Linked DNA regions of Homo sapiens: region 1 is reported to be linked to region 2. The links are microRNA targets in miRTarBase. Many come from high-throughput screens and were not tested one by one. Region 2 holds a microRNA gene; the other region holds the end of a gene's coding sequence.

Region 1 (3,344 bases), not on the chromosome of region 2:
GTTTGAAAGGCGGGACCTGGTGCGGGGACGCTCTTGGGAGGAGTCTTCTCCCCAGCCTTAGCTGGTTTCATGATTTCTTTGCGTCTGTAGGCAACGCGGTAAAAATATTGCTTCGGTGGGTGACGCGGTACAGCTGCCCAAGGGCGTTCGTAACGGGAATGCCGAAGCGTGGGAAAAAGGGAGCGGTGGCGGAAGACGGGGATGAGCTCAGGACAGGTAAGGGAATGAAATCAGCCCTTCTTCCTAGAAGCTGCGGCGGGGGTGTTTGTCATTCCCTTGATGTACGGTAAGTACGGGCCGACTCATTTTTGCAGGGGTTTGTGAAGAAGTCGCAGGAACCGTAGGCTTTCGTTGGGTCTATAGTTAACGCCGGATCGCAGTTGGAAACCACCAGCTTTTTGTCAGTATATATTACTCATTTTATAGAGCCAGAGGCCAAGAAGAGTAAGACGGCCGCAAAGAAAAATGACAAAGAGGCAGCAGGAGAGGGCCCAGCCCTGTATGAGGACCCCCCAGATCAGAAAACCTCACCCAGTGGCAAACCTGCCACACTCAAGATCTGCTCTTGGAATGTGGATGGGCTTCGAGCCTGGATTAAGAAGAAAGGATTAGATGTGAGTGGAATTTGAGGGAAAGAGACATTTTTTAGTATTGAATGGTCTTAGGGTTTAGTCACCCCTTTTCTCCGTTTAGCCTTCAGGCTGTTTTATTTTTCTCCTGCCCGTAGTTTTCTGTGGGGCTTCCCCAGTCTTGCCAGTTGTATTTCCTAAATGTCTGTTCCTTCACTTCCATTGCCATTTTCTTTTTTAGTGTTCTCTCCTCTTCCCAGAATGTTGCAAAAACCTCTTCACTATACTTCCTCCATTTTATCTTCCTGCATTGCATTCCATATGAAGCATGTCCTCCATTCCATTAACCATAGCTTAAAAATCTTAGCTTGCTATCCACTGCCTATAGAAAAAACACATCTCCTTGGCATAGCATGTAAGACTTTCTTACCTCTCTATATTTGTTTTCATTTATCTAGCTTAGAATTGTTTGAATATTGTGCTGCTTGACTCGAACTCCTTAGGCCAAGAGACTGTTTAACCCGTGCGTATCTATGACTTAGCATATAGATTATTCAATAAATGTTCTGCTGAATTGATAATACGTTTTCCACCTTTCTTTTCACTTACAGTGGGTAAAGGAAGAAGCCCCAGATATACTGTGCCTTCAAGAGACCAAATGTTCAGAGAACAAACTACCAGCTGAACTTCAGGAGCTGCCTGGACTCTCTCATCAATACTGGTCAGCTCCTTCGGACAAGGAAGGGTACAGTGGCGTGGGCCTGCTTTCCCGCCAGTGCCCACTCAAAGTTTCTTACGGCATAGGTGAGACCCTATTGATGCCTAATGCCTGAACTCTTCAAAACCAATTGCTAATTCTCTATCTCTGCCCCACCTCTTGATTGCTTTCCCTTTTCTTATAGTTTTTTATGCTAATTCTGTTTCATTTCTATAGGCGATGAGGAGCATGATCAGGAAGGCCGGGTGATTGTGGCTGAATTTGACTCGTTTGTGCTGGTAACAGCATATGTACCTAATGCAGGCCGAGGTCTGGTACGACTGGAGTACCGGCAGCGCTGGGATGAAGCCTTTCGCAAGTTCCTGAAGGGCCTGGCTTCCCGAAAGCCCCTTGTGCTGTGTGGAGACCTCAATGTGGCACATGAAGAAATTGACCTTCGCAACCCCAAGGGGAACAAAAAGAATGCTGGCTTCACGCCACAAGAGCGCCAAGGCTTCGGGGAATTACTGCAGGCTGTGCCACTGGCTGACAGCTTTAGGCACCTCTACCCCAACACACCCTATGCCTACACCTTTTGGACTTATATGATGAATGCTCGATCCAAGAATGTTGGTTGGCGCCTTGATTACTTTTTGTTGTCCCACTCTCTGTTACCTGCATTGTGTGACAGCAAGATCCGTTCCAAGGCCCTCGGCAGTGATCACTGTCCTATCACCCTATACCTAGCACTGTGACACCACCCCTAAATCACTTTGAGCCTGGGAAATAAGCCCCCTCAACTACCATTCCTTCTTTAAACACTCTTCAGAGAAATCTGCATTCTATTTCTCATGTATAAAACTAGGAATCCTCCAACCAGGCTCCTGTGATAGAGTTCTTTTAAGCCCAAGATTTTTTATTTGAGGGTTTTTTGTTTTTTAAAAAAAAATTGAACAAAGACTACTAATGACTTTGTTTGAATTATCCACATGAAAATAAAGAGCCATAGTTTCAGCCTTGCTGTCTTCGTGTCTTACCCCTTCGTGGGGCTACACATTCTCTTCCTCATATTTTCATGCACACAAGTTAACAACTGAAAAAGCGTAGAGTCATGACCTTATTTATTTACAAGCACAGGATAAGTCCCTAACCTCCCCCAAAGACTGAGCAACCCTACCCAGCCCAGTTAAATACTGCAACTGGGGGGGTAAAAAAGGTCGGGAGGAGGAATTAAGGGAAATACAGGAATAGGGGAACATATCCCACATTAAATAGTTATATACACATCAGTTCCTGTGGTTCTGTACAGAGCAGCGGCTGACCCCACCCCCACAGGACACAATGTGGGGAGAGGAGACTGAGGGTACTGAGGCCAGAGCCAACCTCTGGTGAAGTGCAATAGCAGCAGCAAAGTCCTAATGGTGCACAAGAGGGAGGGGAACCCCCAGGGCTACCCACCCCCACCCTGCCCTGGAATGTGTAAGGGACAGGAATGGCTCTCAGGGAGCACACAGGAAGGACAAGGCTGGAACCGTCTTCAGGGCCCAGTTTTAAGGGCAACGTTTTGCCTACTTCACCCTAGACACAGCAACCCTTGGAGGAAAGCAGATGGTCAGCAGTGCTCTTATCTGCCCCTCCAAACCTAAGTGAGGGCCTGGTTCCTTCCTACCTCTCCCCAGGGAAAAGGAAGGCAGCTGCTTGGCTTCCTTCTAGAAGCCCCGGGAGCCTTTAACTACCCCAGCTCCCTTCGTAGTGTCACTGTCCCCACCAGGGAGGGGCCAGGCACAGTCTGTGGGTCATCAGGCTCAGGAGAAGTTCTGGACAGGGTGGCTGACCTTCATACAGGCCCAATAAAGAGCCCGGCCCAAACACAGCACAGCCAACAGGATGACAAATGCCCAGGCTGCATAGATGCCTCCATATCGCCGTGCATGCTTCCATGTGCCAAACTGATGAAGATAAGGAGGGAGAAGAAAAGAAAGATGGGGTTAATGTTGGTCTCCACTACCTCCTATTAGTTCTAAGAACAGTAATAACTCACGCTTCAGTCCTTGTTCCTTATCCACATGTAGCCACCC
Region 2 (3,783 bases):
CCTTGGCCCAGTGCTTTGTCCCAGGCCAGAGTCTTGGCAATGCCACATGCTGGCAGCTTTCTCACTGAGAAGGTCCTAGCTTACCCCTGTGTGCTGGCCTTGGATTCAGCCCCGAGAGAGGGGAGAGACCATTCCTCCTGTGGAGTGGGTTCCTTATCACCAGACCGGCCACTCTCAGAACTGGCGTCCACTGTAAATCCAGGTGCCTTACGTGTGGCTCTGTCCCTTATGCTGCAGGGGAAAGCTGCATTGCCATTGTTCCCACCTCCTCACTGGCAGAAAGATGCCAGGGCTGTTAGCACTGTCTCCTCACCTTCTGTTTCTCATTGTGGCTCCTCAAATGGGATTTGCATGTTCCTGTCAAGCGTAACAACAATCCCTTCTCTCTTTGACAGAGGCCCAGGTGGGACAGTTTCTACTATTTGATATTTGAGTATTATCTGGGATGTGGTTCTGGAGCTGCCCAGAGCTGTGCTTAGTAGAGTGTGTCTTGGAAACATGCCCCTGGGCACACTGTATCTGCTACATTAGTGGGCTATCTCTTATCTGCAGTGTTCGCTTTTGCTAGAAAGAGGATGTGGAGGAAGGAGGAGGTGGGCAATCTGGCTTGAGTTGTGCTGTATCCTCTTCCTTGTTAGCTTGCCTTAGTCTCACTGGAGACCATTTGCGGATAGTGCTTGGTCCATGCCCAGCAGGACAGGGCTTTGCTGCTTCTGAAAGTCTGGTGTTCTGTATCTGGGGCTGTGGGTTCCTGTGTCTAGCTGCTCAGGAAATCTTGAGAAGCATTCCACTCTGGGGTGTAAACCAGTATGAGTTTGAAATTCAAGCGTTTGTACCTGAGTTGGGGAGAGAATTGCAAGGCATACTTTCTCTGAAAGTAACAGAACCATTCAGGCTGCCATGTTATTAAGGAATCTGAACTGTTGATAGCAGTTACCTTGTGGGTGATACAATGGGAGGCGGCAAAAAAACTACCTGCATAGGAGACCCTGCCCTTTGTCAAGAGCTGGGAGCACATTTCATCAGAGTAGCAGGCCCACCTGGTGCCAGAGGGCCTGCCCCTCCTGCTTCTGTTCCTTTGCCTTGCAGTCTCCTGGAGAGAGCCTCTCTTTTCCTGTACAGCCTTTGGGCCAAAATGCCCTTCTAGCTTCTCCAAAGAAGATCCGAGTTTATTTCATTCTATGTTTTAAGAGGTAAAAGGACATAACAAGTGAAAGAAGTTTTGGGCTAAAGTAGGCTATGTCTCCTTATGTATTACTCAATACTGTTTTGCAGAGAAAACATTTTTCAAGCATGTGCTTCCTGAAGACACCTCAGTCTTTGGGCCATTTGATTTCCAATACATAGGGTGGAAGAATGTGATTTTGGGGCTGACCATAAACTGGAAATTTGTGAAATGGCAGTGATTGGGCAATCTTCAGTTTATTTTTTCAGTTGAAGTGGAACTCATTTCTGGAATGGATTTAATAGGCTGTGTCTAATGTACAAACTGGGTGAGTCCTGCCTTAGTGTGTCCTGCCCCACCGGTACGCTTCCAGGATACTCTTTTCCCCTCTGTAAAGTCACTTTCTTCTGATGGCCAGTGTCACTATGATGTCAGTGAGGTCTGGGGATGAGGACAGTGTGTCCTGAAATTCACAGGACTGACTCCTCACCCCAGTGCACGAGGATTCCTGTGGCATCAGGTGCTGCTGTACCTGGTGTAGGAGCCTAATCATTGAACCATTGTGTTACTCACATTCCATGTCACAGAACATATCAGCCTCAAGAAGGATTTGGTGGAGGTGGATTTACCACTGGTTTTACAAAGGACCGTGTAAAGTCATTGAAGTTGTGAAAGTCTATTTTTTTTCCTGTAAATCTATTTTTTACAGAATATAAGAAACATCAATGACCTGATCTGTCCTTCCTCCTCCTTCCCGCTTCCCCCAAAATCACATTCCAGTTTTTATTGTCTTTGTGTCCAAAGTAAACTAGGTGACTTATTTGTATAAAATGTTATTTTGCCACATGAGACAGTAATAAAAGAAAGATTTTCACAGTACGTCTCCCTCGTCCTGTCTCCTGATTGTTGGGCCCGTTGTGTTGCTGAGGGGAGCAGGGGCGAATGGGGGCTCCAGGTTTCTCTTACTTTGGCTATTATGTGGCCCTTCTGTAAGTAGTTGAACTAGAGTATAGCTGGCTTCTAGGGTGATTGAGGAATTGTACTGGACTTTAGGCTTAATATTTTTGCTTTATATTTTCCCAGGGTGAGTGGCTTTGTAAATTGAAAGTTTACATGCATGTTTTAAAGGTAGGGTTTTTTTTTTTGAGATGGAGTTTCGCTCTTTTTTCCCAGGCTGGGATGTGATGGCATGATGGTGGCTCACTGCACCCTTCGCCTCCCGGGTTCAAGTGATTGTCCTGCCTCAGCCTCCCAAGTAGCTGGGATTACAAGTGCATGCCACCACGCCCGGCTAATTCTGTATTTTTGGTAGAGACAGGGTTTCCCCATGTTGGCCAGGCTGGTCTTGAACTCCTGACCTCAGGTGATCAACCCGCCTTGGCCTCCCAAAGTTCTGGGATTACAGGTGTGAGCCACTGTGGCTGGCCATAAAGGTAGGCTTATTAAGAAATACTTTAACTACAGTAAAATTTACCTCAATTAAGAGTATTGATGCATTTTGACAAATGAATACTTTTATTACCCATCACAATCATGATATAGGACATTTCCATCGTACCCACTCAGAAAGTTCCTGAGTTCCTTGTGTTTGCAGCCAGGTGACTTCCCCCACTTCGCCTCTTGCAACCACTATCTGATTCTGTCTCTATTGGAAAACTTGGATACTTTTAAAATGAAATTTGAACGTTCATATTTACAGTCACAAATTCTCAAGAGTCTGGTTTAGATGCTCTGTGGCACCTGAAGCAATTATTGGCCTTTGCTCACAAACACAACTCACTTATTTCTCCCTTTTCTCCTGCTTCTTCATCGTTTCTTCCACCCAGGGCTGGTTCCCAGGTGGGATGACGGAAAGGTGAGGAAGCCCTTAGAGCATTTGCCAATGGGAGCCATTCATTTGACTTTAAAGTACTGAGAATTTAGAGGCGTTCTTTTAAATGCATTATTTAAAAAGAAAGGTAACACATTAAGGACTTTGCTGCATCTTTTGATTGGCTTTCTTCTAGGAAGTAGTGACCGAGGTTTCCACTTTCCTCCAAGAGGAAGAGACAGAAGTTTTGGCAAATAGGTCAATGCTGGGAACAGATGCCTGCCTGGCTGAGTGCTGGGAAAGAAAGGCAGTTGGAGGGATGTGTGGGTGCCTGGGAGGGCGTGGGTGGTGCCCAGGAGGCTATGGGAATCAGAATCACACTTGCACAAGAGAAGACCCTTATGGGACAAGTAAAATCAGCATAGTTTCTTGGGCGGGGCAAAGGTGTCCTGATGAGGATGCTAGGGGTCAAATATGTGTCTGGGTTCTGCCCCAATCGGGAATGAGACACAGTACTGAAGTGGAACGGGGGTAGCATCTCCACCCACCTTCACAGCCTCTGGGGAAAAGAAAGCTTTCCTTGCAGCCCAACTCCAGGGGCCTAAATATTGAGCACCAACACAAGACAGGTCCTTGAGCTTCTCGGAGCGAGTCGGGGAAGCAGATAATTTCAGATGCAAAGTGCCTTGAATAAACAGAACGAAAGATAGAGAGCCAGAGGGGGAGAAACGGCTTGGTGTGGTCAGGGCAGGCATCCATGAGACCTAAACGAAGAGGGGGCATTCCAGACAAAAGGAACAGTGATCAC

What was found. The annotated mature microRNA hsa-miR-4700-3p reads CACAGGACUGACUCCUCACCCCAGUG and lies in region 2 at 1,637-1,662, shown strand. An mRNA with a match to its seed (bases 2 to 7 or 8) in the 3' UTR can be bound and repressed. Matches are read on the target gene's strand: a 7mer-m8 pairs with bases 2 to 8, a 7mer-A1 pairs with bases 2 to 7 and ends in A, and an 8mer does both.
Region 1: miRTarBase lists PIP4P1 as a target of hsa-miR-4700-3p. Seed matches in the 3' UTR shown: 7mer-m8 at 2,598-2,604 and 7mer-A1 at 2,507-2,513.

What each region holds. Positions count from the first base shown.
Region 1 is chr14:20,455,488-20,458,831 of GRCh38, forward strand. It overlaps PIP4P1 (phosphatidylinositol-4,5-bisphosphate 4-phosphatase 1), which reads right to left. Exons shown (of 7, transcript NM_144568.4): 7 at 2,194-3,215. The coding sequence ends at 3,072. It overlaps APEX1 (apurinic/apyrimidinic endodeoxyribonuclease 1), which reads left to right. Exons shown (of 5, transcript NM_001641.4): 2 at 91-216; 3 at 427-614; 4 at 1,181-1,373; 5 at 1,504-2,280. The coding sequence starts at 159. The coding sequence ends at 2,021. Among named protein-coding and RNA genes, the nearest start is that of APEX1, 1.9 kb to the left of the region's middle. RefSeq lists an enhancer at 1-2 and a silencer at 1,603-1,897.
Region 2 is chr12:120,721,597-120,725,379 of GRCh38, forward strand. MIR4700 (microRNA 4700) reads left to right here and starts at 1,597; the gene lies at 1,597-1,670. It overlaps UNC119B (unc-119 lipid binding chaperone B), which reads left to right. Exons shown (of 5, transcript NM_001080533.3): 5 at 1-2,044.